Linked DNA regions of Homo sapiens. The protein of the gene in region 4 interacts with the protein of the main gene of each other region in a pairwise test. Each region holds a gene or a part of one and is shown on either strand. Other genes may lie near its edges.

Region 1 (9,084 bases), on a different chromosome or scaffold from region 4:
CCTTCAGGGTAGGCTGTCAGTACTCTGTCCCTTGATATAAAAAGTCAGTAGCCACTGAGCTAATTCATGAGAAGGTATAACTGATGATCTCATTGTTGCCTCTCCATTTCAACAGAGGTTCTTGTCTTACCCCAAAAGAATGAAACTGCAATGCTGTTACTGGGGTAATAGGACAAGCTAGTGGGCAACAATTTCTAGAGAAGATGACCTTCTAAGGCCCATTATGTCCCAGCCACCAGCAGAGCATGTTTGCCCTGTTTATATATTAGCTGTAATATTGGAGTCAAAGACTTTTAGCTTTGGACCTGGCCTCCAGATCATCATGCTGAAAAAAGCCAACCTGGGTGTGATCTTCAGAGCAAGGTGCAAACTTTCTCTCTCAGTTTAGGCATTTGTACAAAGGAGTTGACAATTACCAAGAAAGAAAGATATTTTCTTAATGAAACAAAAGGGAAAATCAGCCCAATAATAATAATAACAACAAGTGATCATGTATTGTCAAGCACTCTGCTAATGGCTTTACATGCACTATATAATTTTTCTTGAAAATAATCCCAGAAGGTGGTTGGGCTCTTTTCCCCTCCCATTTAATAGATTAGGAAAGAATATAAGAGAGTGTAAATTATTTATCCAAGGACAAATAGCTAATAAGGCATCAAGTTGAGATAAGGGGCAGTACTCCTTTCCATTCAAGGGAAAGAGTGAGCTTGATGAAAAAAATGGCCTTTGGATGACTCCTAATGTCCTTGATGACACCCCAGAGTACCTTACGCTGTGGGTGATTACACCATGGACATTACTTATTCATAAACATCTGACACATTTATGTAGAGGTTTGCTGCTAGCAGATCAGACAGACCTAGTTTTAAGAACCAGCTCTGCCTAATCTAGCTGGAACCTCAGGCAAGTCAGGCAGCTTCCTGAGTCTCAGTTTACTATGGATTAAATGGTGATAATAACTGTTCTGGTTGTCTCTTTGCCAGGTAACTCAAATGCCATCTATGAGCACCCTGCTCATTGTAGTTGCTCAAAATATATTTGTTAAATTGCATGATAAACATGAAGATTCTTTACAAAGCACTATAAAATGCAATGTATTACTAATTCTCTTTTTTTAATGAAAAAAATCACCTAAGTGACCTCCATTTTTCTGTTTACTGCCTATTACTAAACTATTTTCTTCAATCTGGGTATGCTGACTCAACCAGAATAACAGTGAAAATGATAATTCAAACTAATACTGTTTACAGGGAGTTAAACTTCTACAGTGGGATTAAAGGTCTGTACCACGTTAGCACAAATGTCACCTCTCTGTTAATCATAAAACAGGGTCACAGGCCAATGTTCACCACAAGGAGACAGGAGGACAACCTGGGATGGGTAATGACAAAGAACGATTTCCGTACTCCTAAGCCTCTGCTCTCTCAGATCTCAAGCCAACTTTTTTCAGTGTGATGGAAGTTGTTCACATTATATTATTAAATGAAAAACAAGTTTCAGAGAAGTATGCAATATATACTGTCCTCCTATTTTTTAATTAAAAAATGATATATACCCATACTGTTTTTGTGTCTATATAAACAAAGAGTAACAACTCTGGAGTTACCTCTGAAGAATGGGGTAGGGTGGAGAGATTCTCACATTTCTTTTCTTTTTCTTTCTTTCTTTTTTATTTTCTGAGACAGAGTCTTGCTCTGTTGCCTAGCCTGGAGTGCACTGGCACAATCATGACTCACTGAAGCCTCGTCCTCCTGGGCTCAAGTGATCTTCCCACCTCAGACACCAAGCAGCTGAAACTACAGGCGCCTGCCACCATGCCCAGCTATTTTTTTTTTTATTTTTGGTATAAACAAAGTCTTGCTATGTTGCCCAGGCTTGTCTTGAACTCCTGAGTTCACGCGATCCTCCCACCTTGGCCTCGCAAAGTGCTGGGATTACAGGCATGAGCCACTGCACCCGGCCACATTTCATTTTATACATTCTTTATCACGCACTTTATTACATATGTGTAACAAGTAATATGTATATAAATCTGGAGGAAAGTTGTATTAACAACAGAAGGTAACCACAGAAAAACAGAGCTACAAATGACCTCAGAGATACCTGCGTCAACCCTGTCACTTTAGAGATGAGGAAACTAAAGCCAGAGAGACTATGTCTGATGTGCCTTCTAAGTTGTGATGTTCTAGGATTGCAAGTTACATCCTATTGGCTTATGACTTAGAATTCTATTTCTAATCCTTCAGCAAAATAGCAGGTAGAATCCTATGGTATGGTTCTTTCTGCCTTCCTTGAAGATGTTCTGTGAAAACATAATTATTTGTAACATGGATATTTAATTCCTGGAGAAATAGAAGGCAGCAGAAAGTTCATTTGCTTCTCTATGTACAAGACAAATGGATTTTTAAGGCAAATATGAGGAGGCTTATTTATTGATAGCCCATGATTTCTAGGCACTGCATGCAGCACTTTTGTACATGATGCTTAAAGCTGCCAATAGCTTCATTATCCACCCCAATGTCCCAGTGACAAGTGCAGTGGGATGATCTAGGGCAGTCCTAGGACAGCCTGATTTCCAGTGCCCTTTAACACACGCGGAGCAGCCCAGAACGAGTCCTGAATGGTGCTCTTTCCTCTAAACTTGGAATGAAGCCAAAGGACCTCTTAGATATTCAACATTTCCCCATTCCCTGCCCCAGTATCTCTGGCTCTAACCTGGGCCTGGGTGCTACCCAGATGTGCCTTAGCTAAAGTGATGAATAGCAGGGTAGCAGAGTTCAAGCTCTGGTGCATCCAAATTGTCTAATGGAGCCCTAGGTAACTATTTAAAGAGAAGTTATTTTTTAAAAAGGCAACATATTCTCACAATGCCTATTTTTCAGATAGTAGAGCAAATGTATCAAAATACACAACCTTTTGATTCCTACTATCTTAAGCTGTAGGGTCTTCACAGTGTCTGGGGCCAGCAGGAAATGTTCTAGAAAGTGTCAAACATGAAGGGTTTGGAAATTCATAATCAAATGATGACTATGCTCTGTGAAGTTTCCAACCCTGTTGCATTTCCTCATTTGAGCAGTGGGTGAAGGCGAAGGGCAAAATACTCCAAGGGTTTGTTTCTGTGACAAAGAAACTTCAGTGTCGGTACCAGTAGGTGTGGGAAGAGAATGTAGAAAATGACATAAGGCAGTAGATATGTAAATAAATCACTAAAATAAGTAGTTGTTATGAAAAGAGAGTTGAGAGTTGAAATGAACAGGAATCTCAAAAACTGATTAGAACCTAACGATAGGAGTGTTCAAGTTGTTTTTCCTAGATCAGAGACTCACAAGGGCCTCATTCAGGTAACACAAGTAACTGGCAATCAATCTTGGGCATTTTGCCACCTCTCAAAAAGTCAGGAAAGGTGTGAATGAGCATTTATACTTAGAGAGAGGAAAACAAGCATTTCCCTCCAAGCAGAGCCATCATGTTTTCAGCCACCATCAAGTTTTTCCCGAAAACAAAGGCAAACCAATCTTCCCTTCTATAAGCTTAGTAGTATTATTAACCCCTTATTCACTGGTGCTGTCCAGGTATACAAAGGAAGCTTTTTTACTTACAGTTTGGGAGAGAAGAGTCCTCCTAGATATCAAAAGCTGTGGGTGAGGCAGCAGCTGCCAAATAAGACAGATCTTTGGTAGCACACAATTTTTATAGACTTCTCATCATGTTTTTTTTTTCCAATATTTGCCCTCCCCTTTCTACCTTGACCTAGTAGGGAGGTGTTTATTCAACACCTCTGATTGGCTCATAAACAACCAGTCCTTAAAATCATGCCCATATACTCCTTATGCTCATAGAATGTTAAAGCTGCAAGGAATGTCTTTAGACCGTGGAGTTCCTAATCCAGACCCTCCATTTCACAGATGAGGAAACTAAGGCAAGGAAGATAAGGAGGTTCCCTTAAGTCATACAGCTAGTCAATGATGGAGCTCTAGGGTCCATTAAATGATACTAGGAAGAATGTTAGTGTAGCTGTAACACTTACAAAACACATGAACTTGGTGACGGGTTTTTGGTTTTGTTTTTTACTTGTCTGAGCCGTTATTTTCTTCTCTGTAAAGTGGGATCTCAATTTCACAGGAGCATTAAGTGAGTTGTATAGTGTCTGTACGCAGTAGGCATTCAAGAATTATTATTTCCAAATTAGGTAATCAATGCTATATTTTCATTATTTATCTTCAGTATATCATTAGTAGTCAATTCCAACAATTTATTCTATAATTTATAGTTAAATTTAAATAATCTTTCAATAAAAGAAATTGATTCTGAATCCTTGAATTTCCCATGTGTGAATTTTGTCCAAATTGGAAATAAAATTCAAAACATTCTGTTTTTAAAAATCATTGTCTCTCCCATCTTCTCCAGTCCTCCAAAACCTAGCTGGGCTTTCTGATGTATTTAATGCCAGAAATCATTGTTTTGTATTCCCATTCTCTTTTAACCTTTGTACTTTTGTCTTCAAATTTGGTTAAAAACTAGAATTAAAGTGATTGAACTAAGCCATCAACACCCCTAAATATGGTACTGTCTGGGTATGGGTTCATTCTGCAGGGCTTTTTCCTAAGTATGAAACCCAAATTTAATTCCAGAAAAGGTAAATAAAAATATTATATGCTTCCAGAGGCAAATGATGAATGAGGCAAATAAATGAGGGAAATCTAAAAGTGATGGAATGACCGTAATTACAAAAAAGGGTAAATTCTCATGAACATGTTCCTCTGGAATAATTCATAAAATGGAAAACAAAACTAAGATGCTTGATTGTGCAGAGTGTAACACCAGAATTTATGGATGAAAAGGTGAAATGTCAACAAAATGAAGGAAAAAATAAACGGAACTAGGTGATCTAAAAAGAGTTTTGGTTTAGTTTTGGTTGTTTTTCCTAGATCAGAGACTCACAAGGGCCTCATTCAGGTAACACAAGTAACTGGCAATCAATCTTGGGCATTTTGCCACCTCTCAAAAAGCCAGGAAAGGTGTGAATGAGCATTTATACTTAGAGAGAGGAAAACAAGCATTTCCCTCCAAGCAGAGCCATCATGTTTTCAGCCACCATCAAGTTTTTCCTGAAAACAAAGGCTTCTGAGAACAGTAAGTATTCATCACTGAATGTGAATATTGAAGGAAATTGAAGTATTTGAAACACAATATTGAGGCTCATTTGGCTAGGGAAGTTCCCACCAAGCCCTGTCCTGAGGATAGTAGAGGGATAGACCAGGGAAAGGTCCTATCAGCTCCCTTGACTCCACTTAGTATCTGATGGCACATTTCCTGGTTTCCCCATCTTCAACTGGGCTCATTGAAGCACCTGCTACCATATTTGTCAGACCAATGTGACCAGCTTTGGGGCTATGTGAGGTTTCATCCTCTATGATTTTTGGTAAAGGAGAATGGAGGAACAAGAGGTGGATGGTGATGAAAGAATAGAGAGTGGGTGTAATGAAAGTTGTTAGGAGTCAGGGCTGGGGTAGTCAGAACCATAGCTAAAACATTCTACCTGCTGAGAGATGCTACTAGTACTAATTATTCTTGTTATACAACAATAATAGCTATCCTTTTTTTGAGAGTCTATGATGTACCTGGTTCTTTTCATAAATTATCTCCAATATCAGCGACTCTCTGAAGAAACGCTTATTACCCCCATTTTATGCATAACAAAACTCTGGTTCAGAGAGGGCAAGTAACTTGTCTAGAGTCACAGTACAGGTAGCTGGAGAGTTTGTCTCATTCCAAGACAGTGATCTAAAGCAGAGCTGCTTACATTTTGGTAACTGCAGACTCATAAATTAGCTCTTTCCCTATTGCCTTCTCAGCAGTTTATAACCTTGGACATTAAACTTTCATTAATCAGGGAGGAATGACTTGCGTCAGCAGACGTAGGTGTCCTTGGTGAGCTGGGCATGGCTCCATGTGAACAACAGCCTGGCTAGGAATGTCAGAACAGCATGAGTACTCCTGCCCTGAGTGCTGCCACTTGCTGCTGTTCTTGTAGCATCAGCATTTGCCCACCTCTGGGGCTTGATGTGCAACTGAAACTCAAAGTTCAGGAAAACAAAGCTAAGGGCTTACTGGACCTTAGAGAAACAGCAACTCTTGACCAACATACACTGCTTGCAGGGTTTTTGTTTTTATTTTTATTTTTGTTAAGTCTCCTAACACAATACAATGTTCAAAATTGAGTATTATATGTGGAAACAGCATTGGACTTGGAGGCTGTGAAACACTGGGAAGTTCTTCAACCTTAGTCCACAGTTTCCCCATCTGTAAAATGAACTAGGAATGCCTCTATCAGAAATGTATTATGAAGCATGAATGAAATAATATATGAGTGGCACTTTGTACAGAATAGGTTTTCATTAAATAGCTAGATCTGAATGCATAACTGGTTTAGAGGCCTTTGATTGTAGGATCTTAAAATAGGCAATGTAACAACAATACTATTCATGATCGTTACAGTCAATACTTCTAACAACAGCCTCGCTTATTCTCTACTCCCTGCCCAACTCTAGATATTTCTTCTGGTTTGAATGTGATATCTATATAAGTCAATCCACAGGCCATGAGATAAATGTGTTATTAATGCATAACATGAGGTCTGAGTCATAAGCAAACTTCTACATGCAAATAAATCTCACATATTATAGAGTTACACTTACTGTAGAATTAGCAATATTATAGAGAAAGAACTTTCATAAAAAGAGACCACATTACACAATGCAACTGGAAGAATCACGATTGGCATTTTAAAATATATTTTCCAAACTGTGGTACAGATATTTCCTTATCATATTGCAATCTGCTTTGGTGGTTGGAATAGTTTCAGGACCCCAAAATCAGTAGTTATTACTTTGGTCTAGAGATAGAGCTATGTTTTCTCAGCATGGCTCTCAAAAGTGTTTTGCTGTTATGTGTATAAGGCATTTTGTTAGCTATGGAGACTTTTTAGAGGATACGAGGTGAGTAAGACTGGCCTATTCTCAAGAAACCTGCATTCTAAAAGGAAGAGAAGATTGAAGTTGAGAATCAAATAAAATCAAACCAAATACAAGAATGTACATAAAAACACCAAGAGATTGTTGTTGTTGTTGCTGCTGTTGTCACTGCAGCATTTATGGATGACTGTGTGAAGTAACATTAAAGAAAAGTCCTATGAAAAGCCCAAATATTCGAGATTTTTTACAAGGCCAAGTCAATTGATTCAATCTGTCAGACTGTAAGACCTAGGGGGGTAGGGGGTAGTAATGTCTTACCAATGTTTCCTCATTATCCAGCACTATGCCTAGACACCAATCAACTTTTGTGGAATAAATGAATCAATAGATATATGAGTATCAATATAGGTGTATATTAGTATCAATCTCAGAAAAGTCTAGAGTAACTGGCTTATAATTCTCATCCCAGAGAACTTTGAAATAAATAATAAGTAGAGTATGAACATTCCTTTCTTCTAAAACTATACTAGGTTCTGAAAACTCTTCTATCATTGCTCATTTGGAATTTCACAGGAATCCAGGCTGTAGTGCCTTGCAATGGTACACAAGAACCACAGCCTCCCTACTTTCAGTAAATTCTGGTACAACACACATAACACAAAATTTACCATCTTAGCCATTTTTAAGTGTTCAGATTAGTAGCATTAAGTGTATTCACATTGTTGGGCAACCAATCTTCAGAACTCTTTTCATCTTGCAAAATTAAAACTCTATACCATTAAACAACAACTCTCCATTCATCCTCCCCACCACCCCCTAGCAACCACCATTCTGCTTTCTGTCTCTATCAATTTGACTACACTATGTACCTCACGTAAGTGAAATCATAGAGTTGTTGTCTTTTTGTGTCTGGCTTATTTCACTTGGTACAATGTCCTCAAGTTTCATCCACATTGTAGTGTGTGTCAGAATTTCCTTCCTTTTTAAAGCTGAATAATATTCCATTGTATGCTGCATTTTGTTTATCCATTCGTCTGTTGATAGACACTCGGGTTGCTTCTACCTTTTGGCTATTGTGAATAATGCTGCTATGAACATGGGTGTACAAATATCTTTATTTAGACTCTGCTTTCAATTCTTTTACGGTTTTATTGAGATAGAATTCACATAGATACAATTCACCCACTTAAAATGTACACTCCAATGGTTTTTTTAGTCTGTTCATAGAATCAGAGTATTAGATGTCAGTTTGTGAGAGAGATGTGGTAGGTTTTTAAGATGCTCCAAATCTGACGGTATAAATAGTTTTAAAGCACCACCATGAAGTCCAGGAGCAACAGCCACTGGGGTGCAGCAGATATGAGAATGAAAGAGTCATGGGTCCCATTTCATTTCCTTGTGGTAATTTTTTTAGATGCTCTTCATCACTAAGAAATCTGAACTCTGTGTATTCTAGGAACACTAGAGTGCCTTGTATATTCAAGTATCCAGGGTAAGTAAATTCAATAGTATCCAAATTGTGGGGCTTAAAAATACCCCTTTGACTAAAGAGTAAAGCTGATGCTTGAAGTATGTTGAAGAACTGGAGGATTTCCTTGTCTGAGGAAATATGGACATGCAGTTAGGATGTTGCAGAGGCAGAGTGAACAGGAAATAATTTCACACTCAGTGACGAGTATTTAGCTGACAGGAAAGAGTTACACAGTGGTCTGAAGTGTCCACCAACCCCCATTTCTCCATATGTCTTTGAATTGGGTTGTTAACTGCCTTGTCAGTGTTTTCTCTTTGTCTTTTGCTCAATCATCTCAAAGTTCAGTTTTTCCCTATCTAATCAGGTTGTTAATTACCTAGGTCATTTATGACCCCCAGCACAGTATTTATTTCACTCTTCCTTATAACAACTTTTCAGAAACTCTTTCATAAAACTTTCATAAAACTCTTTGGCATTAAGGTGAGATGGCCTTTTGCTAGGGTGGAAAAATCTCTAGATAAGGAGGCATGAGGTATGTGGGTGCTGAGTCCAGTTCTGCTGTTGACTGGCCATGGAGCTGAACAAAGTCAGCTTTTCCCAGCCTCCCTTCTCTAACGTGTAAAGTGGCCTGATAATACC
Region 2 (8,520 bases), on a different chromosome or scaffold from region 4:
TGGAAGAACGATGCCAAAGGCATTTTAGAAATTATGAGCTGCCTCTCCCATCACATGCCAAGTTTCAGTGCCTGGGGAGGGCAGAACAATTTCAAAGGAGGGTCTTTGGGCACCTGGGGGGCCTTGGAACTCACTGCCTAGCACTGCCTCACCAATCTGTTTCCTGCATTCCAGTGCAGCCCTCCTTGGATGCCCCAGGTTCAGCTCCAGTGGGCTGAGGTGTGGCCTGGGCTGTGATGTCTGTCCCTCCGGAAGGCACAGGCAGTTAACCTCAGCAGCATCCATGTGGTGCCGACCTCTGTCAGTACATGAGCTGTGGGGGTGTGGCTACCTCCACCTTGAAGGATGGAGCTGCCCAGGGCCTTGGGTATGTGACCCAAGCAGAGGGCCACAGTGAGACCAAGCTACTGCAGTGAGTCCCCAATAGGGAAATGGCTAACAGAGCCATGGGAGCCGGGCACACCAGACTGGGAGGGCCACCGGTGTGCAATTCGAGCCTGGTAGAGCTGCAGGGTGGGGTCCCTCCAACTGTGAGAGCTGCAGTGGGGTTGGGCCATCCAAAGCCATGGCCAGGGCCACTTGAAGCCTTGGGGGCCCAACCTCTGTTCAGCAGAGCTTCACAAGTGGGACCTTCATCCCAGTGGGCCCAGAGGGAAGAGCTTTGAGTCAAAGAAAATTAATCTGAAGATTTAGAACTTACTTGGAACCTGTTACCCATTTCTTTTTTCCCATTTCTTCCTTTGGAATGCAGTATTTATCCTATGTCTGTCCCACCATTGTATTTTGGAAGCATATAATATGTTTGATTTCACAGGTTCATAGATGGAGGGGAATCGGCCGCAGGATGAACTGTACCTTGAGCCTCAGATTTGATTTTGATGATCTTTAGATGAATTTAGGCTTTTGCTGGAATGAATTAAGACTTTTGAGGCTATTGGGATAGAATGAATGTATTCTGCATGTGAGATGATATGAATTTTACAGGATCAGGGCAGAATGCTATGAACTCTATGTTTGTGTCTCCCCAAAATTCATATATACATTTTTCTTTTTGTTGAGACAGGGTCTCAGTCACCCAGGCTGGAGTGCATTGGTGCAATTACGGCTCACTGCAGCCTCGACCTCCTGGGCCCAAGTGATCCTCCTACCTCAGCCTCCCAAGTAGCTGGGACCACAGGCATGTGCCACCAGGCCTGGCTAATATATATATATACATTTGGTAGAGATGGGGCCTTGCCATGTTGCCCAGGCTGGTCTCTAACTCCCAGGCTCAAGTGATCCACCTGCCTCAGCCTCCCAAAGTGCTGGGCCTCAAAATTCATATTTTGAAAACCTAATCACTAATGTGATAGTATTAGGAGATGAGGCCTTTGGAAAGTGATTAGGTCATGAGGGTAGAGCCTTGTAAAACATGTCCAATAAAGCTGCCTTGCCTCTTCCACCACATGAGGGCATTTCTGAGAAGGTTCCATCTATGAACCAGGAAACGGGCCCTCACCAGTCACTGAAACTGCCAGCACCTTAAACTTGAACTTCCTTGTCTCCAGAAATGTGAGAGAGAAATTTCTGTTTTTCATAAACTACCCAGCCTACGGTATTTTGTTACAACAGCCTGAACAAACTAAGACTTCTGTTTTAAGGTATTTTTGTTCAGGTCTAACTATATTGCAGTCTTTTGTTTTGGGAGCATATAATTTGCACCGTGTCTTATATGAAGGGCATGCAATAGACTCATTAAATGAAGTGATTATTATCTTGTGACAGACCTCAGTAACATATACAACAAAGCCAGTAGGAAAACATCACAAAATGCATTAGACCTGATTTTATGGAAGGGTGAAAAAGCCTTTTGAAATTGCATTGGAGCTAAACTGTGAGTGCACGCAAGTAAAACTAGCAGTCAGCAAGGCTATAAATTATCTACCACTTACCGTACAAACACAGTCATTTCGGCTCTATCTTCAATGAAGACATCTGACTCTAAAGGCCTGGGTGGATCAAATTGCTGTTCAGAGGGAATATACAGGGAAATGGTAATGGTAGACTCACTAAAAGGACCTGAACCAGGCTCCACGTAGCTTGTCACTGGAGCTGTCATCTTTATTTTCATCTCTGTGACATAAAAATGAAAGCAAATTTAGTGTATTTTTGACAGCTTTAAACATTTAACCTATTCTTTTTTGATCTGGGTTCCTTGATTTACTTCACATTGTTGACATATTTACCTTTAAGATAATTTTCATCTTAAAACAGTAAGGCCAAAATTACTCAATTGCTCACTGCCCACATTAAACCACTTTCTGTAATACTGATATTCTGGGTTAATAAATTCTTAATTTTTAGAGATAAAAGGGGAAATTAGAGATTACATGGTCAGTAAATTATTTTTTCTTACCATTCAGAAAATGAGGTCCCACAGGCTAAGAGACCTGCTAAAATATAAATAGCAGCAAAGCCAGACCAAAAGCTATGACTTGATGCTTCTAATCTTGGTACCTTCTTGCCTCCTGACGTCTCTGATCCTACCAGTCACCAAATTATCTTGAGGTGTTAGCCATAGAAAAGGACTTATCACGAGTTACACCAAACCCCAGTTCATCCAGCAAAATCAGAGAACAGAGGTTGAAAAGTAATACCCAGTGTAACCCTGGTCCTGAGGAGTCTTGTCTGAAAACAAGACAAGTCTTTGATGACTTGCTTATTTTTCCATTATAAAGGATATTTCTTTAATAAGCTAAAACTCAATAATAAGCCCGGGGACTCTTTCACAATATGCATAATTACAAGGAAAACTGCTTTTACCTTTCTCGTTTTTGCCTTGAATGTAGCTGTTCAGTTTCGTAAAGCCCGTCTGGATGGCTGAATCCCAGTCCATAGACTCCACGGACGTGCTGACCCACTTGGCTGGTCCATAGTGTCGGATCTCATAACTTCCGGGCTAAAGTGGAACAGAGAAAACTTCGAGAAGCAATTCTAAGAGGGTAGGAGTGAGATGCAAAAATACCGGTGCCATGATCTCGGGTCGACCTGGAGCCGTCCTGTCTAGGGGCTGCACCGCCCCGGGGTCCGGCCTGAGGTCCCCGCTCCTTAGGTCTGGGAGGTTCCCCTCCACGAGGTTCCCCTCCTTGCGATTAGGGACCGCAGCGGCCCCAACCCCACACGCTGGGGACTCGATTCACACTTTCAGACAAGCATCTATTACACCCCCTCGGTTCGGAGGGTTCCACCGCGCGTTCTGGGACGTAACCAGTTCCTCCCCGCCCCACCACCCCGCAAAGACAAGAAATTGAGATGGGACCTGCACTGGGGGTAGCGGGGAGGGTAGAGCTAAATGACCGGGGTTTCTCGTTTGCGTAGCATAGTGGGTAGGGACTGGGACCATTTAAAAAACTGTACTTTTTACTTAACTCTATGGGACCCGCTGGCCTCACTGCAAATCAGCCGGAAGGCGGGCCCAGCCCCTCCGCTCCCGAGTCGGCGCCTACCTGGGGGCCGGCGTCCTCCGGGGCCTTCCAGCCCGGCGTCTCCACAGCTTGGGCCGCCGCGTCCTCGGCCGCCCCGGGGTCTGGCTGGAGCGGCTCGGCCATGGGCGGCGCTGACGCTCTGGGAGCCTGGTCAGCCGCGCAGAGGCCCCGCACCCCGGGCCGCCCCGCCTGCGTGTGCGCGCCCCGCCGAGGCCCCGAGTCCCCGCTCCGCAGACCCGGTCCCTCCTCCCGGCCGGGCTGGAGACCCGAGCCCACCCGATGCGTCTGCCTCTGGACCGCGAGGGGGCGCCGCCACCAAGGCGGGGCCGGCTCACGACCCCGGACAGCTCCGGCCGGAGTTGCGCGTCCTGCCCCCGCCCCTCCGCGGCGACAGGGAGCCGCACCTCGCTTCGGCCCGCCTTCTTTTGAGGCACTTCCGCCCCCGCCCCGCCTTTGTTTTTGAAGGAAAGGCACACACAGGTGGCCCCGCGGGCAGTAGGGGGTGGCGCTGTTTCTGTGCAACCGGTTTGGGAACCTCTGCCGCGGCCCCGCCCGCGCTGGGAACCGCGGGCGCTGAGCCGCCTCGAGGGTGTCCCAGCGCACCGCAGGCAGAGAAAGGCAGGAGGTGGCGGCTGGCGACCCGACCCCCGCGGCCCCTGCCCGCACTCCTGGGGCTCAGCCAGGGCGAATGGCCGTACTCATCCCAAGAAGTTGTCCTAGGTCCCAGACAGCTTTCAGGGTCCCTTGCGGAGGAGGTGGTGGGACCACAGACACATGGAGAGAATCTGGAACTGTTCTGGTTTCTGAACTTTTCCCCGACAGGACCCCAGACCCTCTGAGTCATCCCCGCAGGCTTAACGAGACTCGGGGAGAGTTAGTGCCGAGGCCAGACACTAGTGCTTTTCAAGAATTTTGGTTACCAGGGCTTTCCCGAGCCGAGTGGGGTGCGGCTCTGTTCCCCAGCACCCCCTTTCCGCCGGCCAGGCCGACTCCGCGTTACTGTCCCCTGCGGCGGGGACCCGGCACGGCTCCGGCGCCCCCCAGAGGACTCCCATCGTGGGCAGCCAGAGCTCCGAGGCTCTCCGGGGCGACGTGACCGCCGCAGAGGCAGCAGGCACTCCCCACGCGAAAGCCAACGGACAGGAGGGTGGCCACGTGAAAAGCAATGGTGACATCCCCCAAGGGTGAAGGGGAGTAGGCCCCTGTGAACAGAAGAGGCAGCCGGGACCATTGGCAATGCCATGGAGCCAGCACCCCCTAGCCAGGGTGCTGAGGCCAAAGGGGAGGCTCCCTCCCTCGCAAGGAGACTTCCAAGAAGACGAAATTGCCTTTCAAGGCCAGGCACGGTGGCTCACGCCTGTAATCCCTTCATTTTGGGAGGCCAAGACAGGGGTGATCGCTTGAGCCCAGGAGTTCGAGACCAGACTGGGCAACATGGCGAAAACCCGTCTCTACAAAAATACAATAAAATAGCGTTGATAGTAGAGTGGAGAGCATAGCTGCCTTCCAAAAAAAAAAAAAAAAAAAAAAAAGCTGAGTGTGCTGGGGTTGTGATCTCAGCTACTCGGGAGGCTGAGGTGGGAGGATCGGCTTGAGCCTGGGGAGGTCGAAGCTGCAGTGAGCCGAGATTGCGCCACTGCACTCTAGCTTGGGTAACAGAGTGATACCCTGTCTAAAATAAATAAATAAATAAATAAATAAATAAATAAATAAATAAATAAATAATTATCTTTCAAGAAGGGTTTCTAAGAGCAGCTTGTCCTTCAAGAGAAATGGGAAGGAGGGTGGGGTGACTCTTCTGCCTCCTCACCTATGGAGGAAGAACAGGAGTGGGGGAAGATCAATGCCTGCAGCGACAAGGGCGCTGCCCAGGAAGGGAAGGCTGTTGCCACCCCTGAGAGCCAGGAGCCCCAGGCCAAGGGCGCAGAGGCAGTACTGCCTCAGAAGAAGAGGCAGGGCCCCAAGCTACAGAGCTGTCCACTCCCTCGGGGCGGAGAGTGGCCCTACACCAGCCCACGCTGAGCAGAATGAGTAGCTGGGTGGGCCAGGTGGGTGATCTCTAAGCTGCAAAAACTGCTGTTCTTGTGAGGTTACTGCCTGGACCTGGTGCCCTGGCTGCCCTCCTGTGCCCAGAAAGGAAGGGGCTATTGCATCCTACCAGCTACATTCCCTTTCCTTCTCTCCCTCCTGTGGATTCTCCAATCGGCCATGTGGCTTTCCTCGTAAGGCCAGTTGAAGACGGTCCCCCACAGCCTCCCAAGTTAGATTAGTGATATGAAATGTGCCTTTCCCTGGCCCTGCCTCCTTCCCTGTCCCCAGCCCTGCAGAAGGCAATTTTTGGTTTTCTTCCCCAATTCTTTTCCAAGTAGGTTTTGTTTACCCTACTCCCCAAATCCCTGAGCCAGAAGTTGGGTGCTTAAACTCCCAAACCTCGAGGGTCCGGCCTCCCCGCTGTTGAGTTTTTACTCTGGTGCTGTGCCTAGTGGCACCTGGGCCGGGCAGGGGGGCACTGCCCTGCCTAGGGTTCTATTCAAGTTCCAACCTTCAGCTTGTGAATCAACTGTGTCTCTTTTTTGACTCGGTAAGCACATGTTAGGCTTTGGGGCCAGGGAGAGGTCTGTAATGTGAAATAACTTCTTCTTGCCTTTTCTTCTCTCATTTTTATGAATAACTTTTAATGGCCAAACCCCAGATTTGTATTCTTTTTTTTTCTAACTGCTACAACCATTCTCTTCCACCTGGTTTTATTATAACAATTGGAAAAGGAATAAATATCCCTTAAATTTTTTTTTGTTAGATGTATTCTTTATTTTTTCCAAGAGATTTATTAAGATATAATTCATATACCATATAGTTCACCCATTTAAAGTGTACTAGTCAATGGTTTTTAGGATCTTTAGATCTGGGCAACCATCATCACAAGGACTGGGCAACCATCATCACAAGGTGAGAACATTTTCATCACTTCCCACCCTTAAAGAAACTCTATAACCTTTAGCCACCACCTCCCAATTCCCCATTCCCTATGCCTAGACAACTACTAATTTGTTCTCTGTCTCTATAGTTTTGTCTATTTGGAACATTTCATATGAATGGACTCATAATAGTACGTGGTCCTTTGTGACTGGTTTCTTTAACTTGGCAAAGTGTTTTCGAGGTTCATCTGTGTTGTGGCAGGTACTCCATTTCTTTTTATAGCTGATTAATAGTCCATTGGATAAACATTTTATCAACTTATCAGATGAGGGACATTTGGGCCATTTTCAACTTTTGGCTATTATAAATAAAGCTGCTCTACATGTTTATGTACATGTTTCTGTGTGCATGTATGTTTTCATGTCTCTTGGGTAAACATCTAGGAGTAGAAGTTCTGGGTCAAATGGTAACTCTATGTTTAACTTTCTGAGAAACTGCCAGACTGTTTTTTCGCCACTTCACATTCTCACTAACAAGGTGTGAGCATTCTATTTCTCCACATCCCCATCAACACGTGTTTTTATCTGGCTTTTGGATTATAATCATCCTAGTGGGTGTATGCTATGGTTTGAATGTTCATCTCTTCAGAAACTCATGTTGAAACTGAATCCCCAATAGGGCAGTATTGAAAGATGGGGCCTTAAGAGGTGATTGAGTGATGAGGGCTCTGAAATTAATCCATTCATGGGTTAATGGGTTAATGGATTATTGGGTTAGCACGAGAATGGGACTTGTGGTTTTATAAGAGGAAGAAGAGAGACCTGTGCTAGCACACTGAGCCCCGTCACCATGTAATGCTCTGTGCTGTCACGGAACTCTGAAGAGAGTCCCCACCAGCAGGAAGGCCCTCACCAGATGTGGCCCCTTGACCTTGAACTTCCCAACCTCCATAACCATAGGAAATAAATTCTTTTTATTTATAAATTACCCAGATTCAGATTTTCTGTTATCAGCAATAGAAAATAGACTAAAACAGTGCACCTGGTGCTTTAAAATATTTTTTGAGATATGATTCACATAGCATCAGTCACTATTTTAAAGTGTACAATTCAGTGGTTTTTAGTATATTCACTGTGTTGTACAAACATCATGACTACTATCTAATTCTAATTATAGAACATTCCGTCAGTCCAAACAGAAACTCCATGTAGCTTAGCAGTCACTCTTCATCTCCCTTGCCCCAACCCCTTGCAGCCACTAACCTACTTTCTGTCTCTATGGATTTGCCTCTTCTGGATATTTCGTACAAATGGAATCATGTATTATAATATGTGATATTTAGGCCAGGTGTTGTCACTCACGCCTGTAATTCCAGCACTTTGGGAGGCCGAGGAGGGCGGATCACCCGAGGTTGGGAGTTCGAGACCAGCCTGACCAACATGGAGAAACCCCATCTCTACTAAAAATACAAAATTAGCCAGGTGTGGTGGCGGACGCCTGTAGTCCCAGTTACTTGGGAGGCTGAAGCAGGAGAATCGCTTGAACCCGGGAGGCAGAGATTGCAGTGAGCCAAGATCCCGCCATTGCACTCCAGCCTGGGCAACAGGAGTGAAACTCTGTCTCAAAACAAACAAACAAACCAACAAAAGTAATATGCGATATTTTGTGACTGGCTGCTTGCTCTTAGTGTAATGTTTTCATCTATGTTGTAGCATGTACCAGTACTTAATTTTTTTTTAATTGCCAGAAATACCCCATTGTATGGGCCTAGTGCTTCTAAAGCAATTGATGTCTTCTCTTTTCCTTGCCCTTTCCTGCCCCAACAACTGTGCAGTGGCCTGAGGACTCATGGCACTTTCTAGTGGTTCTGTCAGATCTATTATTATGCAGAACTAAGTTCGATTTACTTAGTAAAGGCTAAATAATGAATTTTTAACTTATTTTAAAAAATAGCTTGTTTCGTTTAACTAGGTAACAGATGTGATCCATTGCTTAGGTGACTTTGCAAAGTTGAAAATATAACTTTATCACAGGTTTTTTTTAAAAAAAGAAAAAGGATGTAATTTACTTCATTGCTTAAGAAATCTGTTATTTTAATCTATAGAGTATCTTTTACATTTATCAATGTCTTTTTTGGAGG
Region 3 (8,202 bases), on a different chromosome or scaffold from region 4:
AACTAGAAGAGCCTGTAGAAAAGAATGATCACTGTTTTCCTGACAGCCTTTGTAGAGTAAGTCCCTGGCACAGGTCAAGTAAACACCTCTTATAGATCAGCCTGAACTTTTTAAAATGAAATCTGAGATCCATTGTACTTAGAAGGTATAAAAATGGCTACTCCCCTTTAAATTGGAACCTACTACTTGTGTGTATTAGAGGACTCTGAACTGCTGTCAAATTGAATGCAGAAAACGAGGCATCTGCTCAGTGTTGAACATCTGAAGTCCTCGCGTGAGTGCACCTGCGTGCAGATGTCTGCTGGTGTTTATTATGGCTGTGCTCTGTGATTACAGTGCACTGGCAAAGGGCTGTAGTGTACTGAACAATGATGCCTGTTTTTATTAGGGTTCCTGAAGTGGTTCAGGAGCTTCCATTAACTTCGCCTGTGGATGACTTCAGGCAGCCTCGTTACAGCAGCGGTGGTAACTTTGAGACACCTTCAAAAAGAGCACCTGCAAAGGGAAGAGCAGGAAGGTCAAAGAGAACAGAGCAAGATCACTATGAGACAGACTACACAACTGGCGGCGAGTCCTGTGATGAGCTGGAGGAGGACTGGATCAGGTACCGACTCAGCTCTCCTTTCCTGGCCCACGTGCTCCTTCTGATAATTAAAGGAGACCAACCAGGTGTTGGAGTTATTGCCTCCCAAATTGAGGTCACTGGTGTAATTTCATTCTTTGCCAACCAGGACTGGAGACAGTTTTTTGTGTGGTGTTGGCTGGTTTTTTCCTTAGCACCCTTTTGTGACAAAGTTTGAAGTGGAGAGAATGTTTGGCAGTAACCATGTCTTTGAACTTTGGCAGTAACCACTTTGAACTTTCCACAGTGTGGCTGGTGAACTTCACCAGTGCTCTTTCTTATACCAATAGTCACGGAAGAAAGATGTCCTAGCACTTTGGGAGGCTAAGGCTAAGAGTTCAAGACCAGCCAGGCATAGTGGTGTGGGCCTGTAGTTCCAGCTACTCGGGAGGCTGAGGCTGAGGCAGGAGGATTGCTTAAGCCCAGGAGTTCAAGGCTGCAGTGAGCTATAATTGCATCATTGCACCCCAGGCTGGGTGATAGAGCTAGACCCTATCTCAAAAAACAACCAAAGGCCTTTCAAATAAATAAAATCCAGGTATAGAAGAACTTTGTTTTACTAATTATAAAATTCCCAAACCAGTGCTATGGTTTTCCTTTGGCATTACTTTTTTTTTTTGAGACGGAGTCTTGCTCTGTCGCCCAGGCTGGAGTGCAATGGCACGATCTCGGCTCGGTGCAACCTCTGCCTTCCGGGTTCAAGCAATTCCTGCCTCAGCCTACCAAGTAGCTGGGATTACAGGCGCCCACCACCATGCCCGGCTAATTATTGTATTTTTAGTAGAGACGGGTTTCACCATGTTGGCCAGGCTGATCTTGAAAATCCTGACCTCAGATGATCTCCCTGCCTCGGCCTCCCAAAGTGCTGGGATTACAGGAGTGAGCCACCGCGCCTGGCCGGCAATTATTTTTTAAATTAAGCTTAAAATGATAAGACGAGAGTTTCTTTTAAAGTTTAATCCAAAGAGTTCCGTAAACAATTGAGGTAACAATTTAGTGTTCAGCCACAGTTGTGGTTAAGTTTCTTTGTGTTTTGGTGGTTTTGTTACAATCCATCCACCATCACCAAATGTATTTGTGTATGATGTGTAGCCTTCCTATGCCCAAGTATTCTGAGGACTAAGACGCACATCAGAAACATTTGCAATGTGAATGGTAATCAAAACATCGCTTCTCAGAGAGTGAGGAATGATAGGCGGGGCATGGGTAGCTTGAGATCCCCTATTCACTGATGATTCTGATACTTTATCTTCCCCTCTCCCCTCAAGAGTTTTTGGCCTGGCTTAGCCATCTATCTGTAAAATATTCACCTAACTTGTATCACGGAAGATTTAACTGAAAACTTTATATATTTTTTTGAGATAGAGTCTCACTCTGTTGCCCAGGCTGGAGTGCAGTGGCACGATCTTGGCTCACTGCAACCTCCGCCTCCCAGGTTCAAGCAATCCTCCTGCCTCAGCCTCCCGAAGAGCTGGGATTACAGGCATGCGCCACCACACCCGGCTAATTTTTGTAGTTTTAATAGAGACAGGGTTTCACCATGTTGGCTGGGCTGGTCTCAAACTCCTGACCTCAGGTGATCCACCCACCTCGGCCTCCCAAAGTGCTGGGATTACAGGGGTGAGCTACCATGCCCAGCCTGAAAATTTTCAAAATCTGAAATTCTTGTTTCCCTTTTGATCAAATCATTTAAATTTCTCCCCTCTGTAAAATGAAGATGTTAGATTGTTAGATCTAAAATTTGAAATTCCACATCATTGTGAAACTCCAGTCCTGTGAAAGGATTCAGAGTATTTTCTCTATGGATTATGGGTTAATGGCATCGTCTTCCTATGTAAGGAGTGGCTGGTATATTGAGAAATAGATGTGATACAAAATTTCAGTTTTTCTTCTTTATACTTTAATGAATTGCCAGATTATTTTAACAGTGAGCACATGTTTTTATACATGTACATTTTTAATGTCTATTTTTATTGTGAAAGAAGTAGATAAGCTATTTCCACTTCGGAAAAACAAGAGCAAAAAAATAAATAAACCAGTCTGAAAACTATGGGTGGTAGCAGGAAACAGCCACTTCCAGTCAGCTGTGCTGCCACTGTGGTGATCAAAGCGGACTTTGTGTTCCAGAATTCCAGTTTTAAGACTTTAAACAGGCCAGGCATGGTGGCTCACTCCTGTAATCCCAGCACTTTGGGAGGCTGAGGCAGGTGGATCACCTGAGGTCAGGAGTTTGAGACTAGCCTGGCCAACATGGTGAAACCCTGTCTCTACTAAAATACAAAAATTAGCCGGGCGTGGTGGCAGGCACCTGTAATCCCAGCTACTGTGGAGACTGAGGCACGAAAATCGCTTGAACCCGGGAGGTGGAGGTTGCAGTGAGCCGAGATTGTGCCACTGCACTCCATCCTGGGTGACAGAGCAGGCTTTGTCTCAAAAAAAAAAAAAAAAGAAAAGAAAAACTTTATAAACATAAGTAGTCCATTATTGATATTGTGTATGGGAAATAAGTGAGTTCCTATGACTTGTACCTTCAATTTTGTAAATGATTTTCAAAATTATTTCTGCAAATTACGTAGGCATAGTTTTTATTTTTTAAAAAATGAGCAGTAATATATAGTCACTCTTAATAGAACTTATTTGTATTCTCTCTCTCTTTCCCCATAAGAAACAAAAACGAAACAAGAAAATGTCATTCTCCATACCCAACCAGCTTTATTATCTTTGAGGAAGGAGCATTGAATTTTATGTCTGCTAAGGATACATATGTAGTCATTTTCTCTCTCACCTTTTAGGGAATATCCACCTATCACTTCAGATCAACAAAGACAACTGTACAAGAGGAATTTTGACACTGGCCTACAGGAATACAAGAGCTTACAATCAGAACTTGATGAGATCAATAAAGAACTCTCCCGTTTGGATAAAGAATTGGATGACTATAGAGAAGAAAGTGAAGAGTACATGGTAAATTCAACCTGATATTTATATATTAAACAGAATTTGAATCTAATCTGTGGAGGTACAGCATCCTTTATATTAATGTTGATAAAAATGTGCTAGTAGTTATCAAACTGCAGTTTCATTGAAGAATAGTTGAGATTGGGTTTTGGATGAAATTCTTTCCTAATAGAAGATTGTACTAATGTATAATAGTTAATAATTACAAAGCACTATTCTGTTTTTTTTTTTTTTTTGAGGTGGAGTCTCGTTCTGTTGCCCAGGCTGGAGTGCAGTGGCGTGATCTCAGCTCACTGCAAGCTCTGCCTCCCGGGTTCACGCCATTCTCCTGACTCAGCCTCCCAAGTAGCTGGGATTACAGGTGCCTGCCACCACGCCCGGCTAATTTTTTGTATTTTTTTTTTTTAGTAGAGACGGGGTTTCACCATGTTAGCCAGGATGGTCTCGATCTCCTGACCTCGTGATCTGCCCGTCTTAGCCTCCCAAAGTGCTGGGATTACAGGCGTGAGCCACCGCGCCCAGCCCCTACAAAGCACTATTCTATGTACATCTATCCTTTCCTATTTAAAATAAAATAGCCAGGCTGGGCATGGTGGCTCATGGCTATAATCCCCACACTTTGGGAGGCCAAGGCAAGTGGATCACCTGAGGTCAGGAGTTAGAGAATAGCGTGCCTAACATGGTGAAACCCCATCTCTACTAAAAATACAAAAAATAGCAGGGCATGGTGGCAGACACCTGTAATCCCAGCTACTCGGGGAGGCTGAGACAGGAGAATTGCTTGAACCTGGGATGGGGGAGGTTGCAGTGAGCCAAGATTGCGCCATTGCACTCCAGCCTGGGCGACAGAGTGAGACTCCATCTCAAAAATTAATAATAATAATAATAAAATAGCCTTATTATCTTTCCTATTTATAAAGCCATTCATTCTTTCTGTAGAAAAGAACTTAAGCGGCCGGGCACGGTGGCTAATGCCTGTAATCCCAGCACTTTGGGAGGCCGAGGTGGGCGGATCATGAGGTCAGGAGATCGAGACCATCCTGGCTAACACAGTGAAACCCCGTCTCTACTAAAAAAAAAAAAAAAATACAAAAAATTAGCCAGGTATGGTGGCGGGTACTTGTAGTCTCAGCTACTTGGGAGGCTGAGGCAGGAGAATGGTGTGAACCCAGGAGGCGGAGCTTGCAGTGAGCCAAGATCGCGCCACTGCACTCCAGCCTGAGTGACAGAGTGAGACTCCATCTCAAAAAAAAAAAAAAAAAAAAAAAGAACTTAAGTAACACAGAACTGTATACAGAAAAAGAAATCATCTTAAATCCTACCATCAAGAAATCCTTATCACCAAAATATTAGTTAAAACAATCTCTCCAAGCAGGAGTCACCAAGGCACATACACCTTTCTTTAAGGAAACATCATCTTCCATGTTTCACTTATTTTCTTCCTGTCTTTTAAATCAACAGTTTATGGGTTTTTTTTTTCCCTCCCTTGATCACCTGGCTGAGATAGAATTTGTCCATGTAAAGTTACTGGATTTTTTTTTCAATCCATCCTTTTCATACTGTATTTTGTATACATACTGAAATTAATGTAGTTACACCACCTTTTAGAGGGAGATTAATCTCTTCTTGTTTATTTGTTCCTTTATTGATCAGTCAATCACTTACGTAAGTATGGACTTTACAGATACCTGTTTTATACTGTGAATTATAATCCAAGGCTGCTTTATTTTGTAGCTCTAATTGTTCTCGCTTTGACGGTTGGGAACTTTCAGTTGCTTCCCGTGTCCCTTTGACATACTCTTATTGTGGGGTTTTATCTTTAAAAAAAAAACAAACAAAAAAACTTCCTTGCACTGCTTATTTCTGGCTTTTCTTAACAGCAAGTTTTTTTTTTTATATCAATAATAAAGACCTACTTACTTTTAAGTTTTTTATGTGTAAAATTAGGTAAACAACTTTCAAATTTATGGTTGTATCATAATTTAAGAGTCATTTTCTATGGATAGACATTTAAGTATGTCTCCCCCTACTCCAGTAGTACCAGTATATACTGGTGAACCTCTCTGTTTTTGCACTCTTGTCTACTTATCTAATTTTTTTTTTTTTTTTTTTTTGAGACGGAGTCTTGCTCTGTCGCCCAGGCTGGAGTGCAGTGGCGCTATCTTGGCTCACTGCAACCTTCGCCTCCTAGGTTCAAGTGATTCTCCCGCCTCAGCCTCCCGAGTAGCTGGGATTACAGGCATGTGGCACCACACCTGACTAATTTTTGTATTTTTAGTAGAGACGGGGTTTTGCCATGTTGGTCAGGCTAGCCTCGAACTCCTGACCTCAGGTGATCTGCCTGCCTTGGCCTCCCAAAGTGCTGGAATTACGTGTGTGAGCCACAGTGCCCAGCCTGCTTATCTAACTAAAACTAATTCCAGAATGTGAAATTGCTGAGAGTCAGAGGGTACGTACCTTTGCAAAGTTGCAAAATTGCCCTCCAGAGAGACTGCACCAACTGTGTCTCCCTCTTGATACAATACAGGACTCATTTGATGCACATCTCATTAAATATTCTGCCATTTTTCAGTTGAGGTGATCTACTTTTTAGTTTTGACGTATTCACATCTTTATATAGTTAGATTTATGTATTTCTTTTATGGTTTCTATAGGGTGTTATAGATCTTTCTTAATTTAGTGAACATTTATTGATCACTTATTTTTCTTTGATGATGTGGAAATGCTGGAGCTAGAGACATAAAATCTTGTCCCCACCCTAAAAGAGCTTATATTTTAAGAAAAAAAACCTGACATCTAAACAATTTAGACAGTATGATTAATGCTGTATTTGCATCATGTGTAGAAAGCACTATAACTAACTGCTCATAGAAGAAATAAAGTCTTTGGAGGCTTCACAGTGAGGGAATCGTTAAGAGCTTTCCAGACAGAAGGGTGCGGGGAGGTGCATGATTACAGCCATAAGGAAAACATGATTGAAATCCTGAAGCATTTAACATGTCTCAGTTTTTAAAGGAGTTGCTGATGATGGGTACTGAGACTGGAAAGGTAGGAAACTGGATGAGGGGAGAAGTTAATGGGAAGCTCAGACCAGTTGTGTAGTGGGATATTACCTGATCAGCGAGCGCTCTGTGTTATAAAAGATCTTCCTGGTGTCAATGTAGCATGGGGACTGGCATGAGGAGAGATGAGAAGTAGCAGAACAGATAGTTACCTGCCTATGTGAGTGAAATGTGAAAGATACAGTATCATAAATGTCTCTTCACTGAATTCCTTCAGACCTTCCTGCTGATCATGAGTTTTAAGAGCTTTACGACTTCATTCTTTTAATTGCTTATATTTTTGTCATAAGCTGTCATTTTTAGCTCCAAAGTATAACATCAGGAATGTTACTTTTAAAAGAGAAAATGCCCCAGTAAACATATTCCTTTGTGTCTGTCGTTAATAGGCTGCTGCTGATGAATACAATAGACTGAAGCAAGTGAAGGGAGTAAGTATCCGAGATTGTTCTTTTAGGAAGAACTTTCTTTCTTCTTCTTTTTATTTTAATTCCCATACCTACTCATCTGGAGGAAGAGCTTTTCTATTACATGTTTTTCATTTTTTATTTTATATATTTTTTAAAAGTTGAAGTATACATACAGAAAAGTGTATAAATCAAAGTGTATAACATGGTGAATTTTCACAATGTGACCACATACCTGCGTATGCAGATCAAGAAATATATTTCCCAGTACCTCCCCACCCCCAGCACCCCCACCCTCACTTGTACTACTTTCCAGTGTTTACACTCTCTCCAGAGGGGTCCATCATGCTCACTTCTAACATCATAGAGTTTTGTCTATCTTGCACATTACATAAATGGAACCACACAGTATGTATTTTGTGTGTGATTTCTTTTGCTCAGTATAGTGTTTGTAAGGGTCCATTTGTAGTTCATTACTATTATTTTTTTTAGACGGAGTCTTGCTCTGTTGCCCAGGATGGAGTGCAGTGGCGCAGTCTCAGCTCACTGCAACTTCCGCCTCCCAGGTTCAAGCAATTCTCCTGCCTCAGCCTAGCTGGGATTGCAAGCACGCACCACCATGCCTGGCTAATTTTTGTATTTTTAGTAAAGACATGGTTTCACCACATTGGCCAGGCTGGTCTTGAACTCCCAACCTCAGGTGATCCCCCTGCCTTGGCCTCACAAAGTGCTGGGATTACATGCATGAGCCACCATGCCCGGCCATGGTTCATTAATTTTTTTTTTTTTCCTGAGACAGTGTCTCGCTCTGTCGCCCAGGCTGGAGTGCAGTGGCACAATCTCGGCTCACTGCAACCTCTGCCTCCTGGGTTCAAGCAATTCTCCTGCCTCAGCCTCCCGAGCCACTGGGATTACAGGCAAGCACCACCACACCTGGCTAATTTTCCTATTTTTAGTAGAGATGGGGTTTTACCATGTTGGCCAGGCAGGTCTCAAATTCCTGGCCTCAAGTGATCCACCTGCCTCCGCCTCCGAAAGTGCTGGGATTACAGGCGTGAGCCACCACGCCTGGCCGGTTGATTAATTTTTATTGCTTTGTAGTGTTGTATATAAAATGCAACTTTATTCATCCATTCTATTGTCAATGAACGTTTGG
Region 4 (5,959 bases):
ACACCCGGAACTGGGGCGTGAGGCTCAGTTCGCACTGCTCAGCTCACCACCACCACAAGTCCCAGGACCTGCCCGTGGCATCAGCTCCATGCAGGCCTCACCAGAGGCCCCCAGGCGTCCTCATCCTCCCCCACTCCCCGACTCACGGACTCTGGGTCTCTCCTAAATCTGCCTTTTGTCCTATTCTGACTGCTTCTGCCCTGGTGGATTTCATCTTTCCCTGCCCAAATGACTGTAGGAGCCTGATCTGGCCCCGCTCACCCTAATCCCCTTCTTCTGCCCCTCAGTATCTTGGCTGCCCGTGTGCCAGGGACTGCATGCCCTCTGCCACTGGGGGCGTCTGGGGAAGAGAGGTCCCAGGTGGAGGTGGCAGGGCAGGTGAGCGTGACCTCGTGACCATGGCAGAAGTGGGGGTTCGAGCGTGGTTAGAGGCTGCTGGAGGGTGTGAAGGGGGACGCGTTGACATGATCACTGGCTGCTTTGTGGTGAGTGGATTCTAGGAGGTAGAAGTAGAATCAGGGAGCCGAGCGAGGAGACTCCCTGAGTGAAGATGGAGGTGGGTAGGGACTGTGTGAGCTCCGCAAGCAGCACGGCCCCTGGGCCAGGGCCCCTTCCTCTCTGCTCTCCGGGGTCTGGGCTGCTTTCCGGACAGCACTGTCCCGTGGCCTTTGCTGACTCCCTAAGGGCCCCGGGAGCCCCAGGATAGCAAAGGACCTGTGCCTGGCCTCACCCCCATTCGCAGCTCTGCAGCCCTCAGGTCCTGGTGCCCTCAGAGACCTGGGATATGGGAGAGGGGCTGCAGCGCTGGCTGCTTCGGGGGTTTTCCTGTTTAAAGGTCAGACACACACACACACACACACACACACACACACGTAAAATTCTATACGTGTCTAATACATAGACACTAAAATACTGTTTTCCAAATTTTTTTTTTTTTTTGCGACGGAGTCCCACCTTGTCGCCAGGCTGGAGTGCAGTGGCACGATCTCAACCCACTTCAACCTCCGCCTCCCGGGTTCAAGCGATTCTCCTGCCTCAGTCTCCCAAGTAGCTGGTACTACAGGCGTGCACCACTATGCCCAGCTAATTTTTGTATTTTTAGTAGAGACGAGGTTTCACCATGTTGGCCAGGATGGTCTCAATCTCTTGACCTTGTGATCAGCCCGCCTTGGCCTCCCAAAGTACTGGGATTACAGGCGTGAGCCACCGCGCCTGGCTCTGTTTCCACATTTAAATGTGATGCCACTGACTTCATCAGACTTCTCCAAGCATCCTCTCTGTCAAAGCCTTAGTTGTCACCAGGGCTGTTATTTGGAGACATCCAATAGTTCCCCAGGCCCTGGGAGCTCCATTGTCATCTGTGCTGTTTGAGATAGCACATTTTAAAAATTCATGGTGCTGTCACTGAAAACCTCATCTTAAGCCTCACACGTGCTGTTTGCACAACAGTAGACCACTGGTGTCTTCTGAACACCGTGATGTAACCACTTACTATATTGTTTTTCATTTTTTTTTGGAGTTAATAGTGTCACGTGCTTTCAAAAGCCACCAAAGAGGTTCACTGAGAAATCTCTGCACCTCCCTCCCCAGGTACACAGCCTCTCCTAGATGGGCCAGCGTGACCGTCACCTGCATGTCCTTTCAGAGACCTGTGTATAGGGGCAGAGAAGCTTTCCTTTCTCTTTTGACCAGAACTTTCTTGGTAACCTTGCTGTTTTCATGTACCAGTGTGTACTCAGCTGCCCCGTCTCATGGTGGGAGCGTGGTGTCCTGATGCATGGGTAGACCACAGCTTAGGTGACTTATGCCCACCTCACACACTTCCAGGCTGTCGCCAATCTGTCACCATCACAGTGAATAACCTTGTATATTCACCATTTTGCAGTACAGATGTGGATATATCTGTAGGACAGATTTCTGCAATGGAATTGCTAGGTCAGAGGGTATGGCTGTAAACATTATCTGCAAATAAGAAAAAGACAACCAATCCAATAAAAATGTAGGTAAAGGGTATGAACAGTTCATAGAAAAGGAACTGCAAATCGCTTGCCAGCATATAAAAATATGCTCAGCCATTCACTCATGATAAAAGAGGTGTAAATTCAAGCTACTCCGAGACAGTGCCACATGCCTATTGGCAACACTAAAGTGGGAAAGACTCGTGTGTTGAGGACGCAGAGTCACTGGGGCTCTCATCCCCTGTGTGTGGGTGTGGAATTGGCACAGACACTTTGGAACTCAGGACAGTACCTCCTGCTGCATCTGCTGGGCACTTCCCGGTACCCAGCCTTCTACTCCTCAAAAACATGGACGCGTGCCTACCAGGATATCCCCAAAATTACAAGGCAGCTTCATTCACCATGGCCAGATTCTGGCCGTATTGAAGGAAAGGCTGCTCAGCAGTGGGATGGCGGGTGGGCCGCGGAGGCTTTCTGTCGGGGACTGTGCAGCGTGGGTGGGCCACACACATCAGGCTGGGCCAAAGCACCCGGCCGCAGAGCACCTGCCGCACGGTGCCATGGGCCGGGGGGGTCACAGCGAAAGCCAGTCTCTTGAGTGGGATGCCAAGTGGCCTGTCTCTCCGGGCAAGACTGAAGGGGCAGAGGCAGCCTCTGCATCATGTCACACAGGTGTGCGTGATTGTGACGAGTCGTGCAGCGGTGTGTGTGCACTCCGGATGTTATTCTTCCGTTTAAAAAGTACGGAAAGGAAGGTTTCTCAGCTGTGAGGCATTTTCACTGAGCAGATTGAGAAAGCCCCAGAGCCTGAACCATGCCGTGCTGCCAGTGCAAAGCAGGGGAAGGCAGCTGGCCTGGCACAGGGCTGGTGGCAGGGCAAAATGGGGCCCTCTGGCAGGTGGCTGAGATCTGTCTGTGCAATTGCAAATGCACGTCCTTGTGGCCTATAAAATTGGAGTGTATTTTGGGGTCTTCGTGAACCCCTCACCCTGACACCCACTGCATCCATGAGTCAATGACAGTGTCTGTGTCTCTGCAGCCAAGAAGCCCTCCATGAGCAGAGCAGCTACATCCTCTCCAGTGCAGAGACGCCTGCCCGGCCCCGAGCCCCGGAAACTTCTCTCTCCATCCACGTGGGGAGCTTCAGATAACCGCGCCGCTGCACGGCTCTACTCCCGATGAACTCTCCGGCTGATGCCACAAACGTGGGTTTCCTGGGCATGGGGACTGGCTGCCTGGCGCCTCCAATCCCAAATCCTCTGCTTCCTTTGAGCACAGGGACGGCTCCTCTGAGGCCTGGCCAGTGCATGTAGTCACTTAGCTCTGCAACACGTGGCAGCCACGGGGGCTGGTGCAGCTCTGGATGTCGCCCACCCAGCTGCCAGTAGGTGCTGGGCTCTCTCACACAGCACCCGGCCCCAGCTGCCTTTTTTTTTCTTTTAACCAGAAAATGCACAACGTGTGCGTGAACCGCAGGTATGGAGGCAGCGGCATGCCGTTGCTCCGCTGTGGGAGGTGTGTGGGGTCAGGCCAGCCACTTTCCTCCGTGTTCAGATGACTCTCGTTCGCCCTGACCGGCTTCTCACAGTGTCTCAGGCCACTGCGCCACCGCGCTGGTGCTGAGCAGAAGCGGGCAGAAGTGGGGTCTGCTTTCAGGACTTCATTTCCCCCACTCGTTCCGGCCCCGCATGCTCCACGTCTGCCCTTTGGTCTGAGTTAAAACTGCGATGCTGAAAAGTGCGAGCTCTTTCCACGAGGAGGAGCCACACAGGGTGGCCTCCGAGGGTGAGTCGCTCTGCTAAGCAAGGGCAGCCGCTGCACGTCAGCCCGCAGGCCAAGGGTCCAGCTTATCCTGGGTGCTCTGTGATCAGAAGGTCCTTGGATCCCGAGGACTGCAGCTGCTGCCGTCCACAGCGCCTCAGCCTCTCTTCCTGTGTGGAAGCGGGGCAGGCAGGGCTGTGGCAGACAGGCCTGGCATAGCCCAGGTTCCAGGTGTCCTGGGCAGCCTGACCGGTTTCCTGAGTAGCCTCAATGAAAACACCTGAGAAAAAGAAAATGTAAACTAAGGAAGGGTTTTCCCACTTAATCCAACCCAGATTTCTATTCAACTTAAAGGATTTAATTGGCATTTGTGAGAAATAATAGTACCTGTGTCACTGAGTTGATTGATTTGGGACATAGACGGTTGACTTTCCCAGACAGCAGCTTAGCGGAAAGCAGCATCCCGAAGACGGTGTCGCATGTCCTGAGCCTGCTTGTCACCTGGGCCTCACGGTTTCTCGTCAGCCCCGTCACTGATGGGAAGCAGCACTGAAGTGTGAGGGCAGAAAGGACACCGCTGGAGTCAGGCGCTCCCCTGCCTGTGACCCTTTTCCAACAAGCTGATGCTGAGCCAGCGGCCTGCTTTGTCCCTCATACTCCTCCCAACAGTCCAAACCCCTACCAGACAGAAGCCACGTCGCTTCTGCACACGTGTCTGAGAGCGTCTGCCATAGACGTCTGTGCGTTTCCGTGAAGCACTGCGCCCTAAGGACCCAACTCTGACTAGCAGCTGCCTCCCACTCCCAAACACTAACCCCGCTCAGGAGACTCGCACTGGGTGTAGACTGCGTCTTTGCAGAGGGAGATGATAGAGGCTTCTGATGACGCCAGAGCTGTAAGTGTCGTGACGAGCTGGGCGCCCAGCCCTTCTTAAGCTGTTCTGTTTCTGTGGCTTTAACTGACATATTTCTGTAGCATCTGCCTTCATCTCATCTCAGCGTAATGAAATATTAATGAAATCGCTGAAAAGCTTTGCCTTCGAGAGGCCAGAAGCCTCGCGGAATGTCTGCAAGTCCAAAGACGCGTGTGGGTTGTGCCCTGAAGTGCCGTCCAGCAGGCGCGTGCGGCCGGGCCGGCCTGTGCGTGTGGCCTTTGCCTTCTTCCCTTTCTTCCTGTTTTCTGTTTTTTTAATTTGGGGATTGAGAAAGCTGTACGATTTTGTTAAAGAAAAAAATAAACCATTTTTTAAAGTTGTAGCCCTTAGCTGCTTTTGGTTGCCGGCTACTTCGTGCCCAGCTTGCTTAAGAGAGGAACTTTTGGCCGGGCGCGGTGGCTCACGCCTGTAATCCCAGCACTTTGGGAGGCCAAGGCGGGTGGATCATTTGAGGTCAGGAGTGTAAAACCAGCCTGGCTGACATGGTGAAACCCTGTCTCTCCTAAAAGTACAAAAAATTATCTGGGCATGGTGGCGGGCGCCTGTAGTCCCAGCCACTCGGGAGGCTGAGGCAGGAGAATCGTCTGAACCCAGGAAGCAGAGGTTGCAGTGCGCCAAGATCGTGCCACTGCACTCCAGCCTGGGTGACAGAGCGAGACTCCGTCTCAAAAAAAATACATAAATAAAATAAGGAACGTTTGTGGCCCTTTTTCCCAAGCCTGCTTCAGATGCTAAATAAACAGTTTATATTTAGAAATACTGCAGCAGTGCTGCTTTAGAAATAACAAGTTTGCTTTGGTTTTAAAAAGTTCAGACTCATGGGAAAAATGCACTGGAAGAAACTGGATGTAATCAATCTGGTTTTATTTTCCTTCTATGGAAATACGTAATGGTGGTGTCGTCACAGAAAACATACTTATTCAACAGTGACTTTTTCTAGCCAAAAAAGGGAGGGGCAAGAATTCCCTTGCAAATCATTTTGGCGCCATCGATGTGAGTTTAACCTGCAGAACAGACTTAACAGTGAGGGACCAACTTACAACAGCCCCTTCACCCTACAGGTCCATCATTCTGTTCTGTTCTGGATAACGCACCCACCCAAAGCATGGCCATACCAGGGTTCAATAAAATCCATAACAAACGCATTCTGGGTGAAGCGGTGACCTCAGTATCCAAGTAAAGAGAGACTGCTTCCAGCTCCCTCTGGCCGCTGCCCTCCCCCACTCCCACCACACACGCCCACGTGCTGCCATGCGTCCAGGTCCCTGTGGCAATGGCTGCAGAGTGTGGCAGACAGGGCCCTTCA

What was found.
Region 1: the proteins of USP40 (region 4) and ALDOB interact in a two-hybrid assay, tested with the Homo sapiens proteins (one study listed by BioGRID).
Region 2: the proteins of USP40 (region 4) and HEBP2 interact in a two-hybrid assay, tested with the Homo sapiens proteins (one study listed by BioGRID).
Region 3: the proteins of USP40 (region 4) and OCLN interact in a two-hybrid assay, tested with the Homo sapiens proteins (one study listed by BioGRID).

The regions. Positions count from the first base shown.
Region 1 is NC_000009.12:101,432,110-101,441,193, forward strand, and holds the start of ALDOB (fructose-bisphosphate aldolase B), read right to left. Parts: upstream 3,666-9,084; 5' UTR 3,600-3,665; intron 1-3,599. UniProt on the Homo sapiens protein: Catalyzes the aldol cleavage of fructose 1,6-biphosphate to form two triosephosphates dihydroxyacetone phosphate and D-glyceraldehyde 3-phosphate in glycolysis as well as the reverse stereospecific aldol addition reaction in gluconeogenesis.
Region 2 is NC_000006.12:138,399,563-138,408,082, reverse strand, and holds the start of HEBP2 (heme-binding protein 2), read right to left. Parts: upstream 3,861-8,520; 5' UTR 3,588-3,860; coding exon 3,486-3,587; intron 2,939-3,485; coding exon 2,803-2,938; intron 2,113-2,802; coding exon 1,932-2,112; intron 1-1,931. UniProt on the Homo sapiens protein: Can promote mitochondrial permeability transition and facilitate necrotic cell death under different types of stress conditions.
Region 3 is NC_000005.10:69,544,516-69,552,717, forward strand, and holds part of OCLN (occludin), read left to right. Parts: intron 1-388; coding exon 389-604; intron 605-3,414; coding exon 3,415-3,586; intron 3,587-7,028; coding exon 7,029-7,070; intron 7,071-8,202. UniProt on the Homo sapiens protein: May play a role in the formation and regulation of the tight junction (TJ) paracellular permeability barrier.
Region 4 is NC_000002.12:233,474,542-233,480,500, reverse strand, and holds the end of USP40 (ubiquitin carboxyl-terminal hydrolase 40), read left to right. Parts: exon of another isoform or gene 1-378; intron 379-2,997; coding exon 2,998-3,109; 3' UTR 3,110-4,975; downstream 4,976-5,959. UniProt on the Homo sapiens protein: May be catalytically inactive.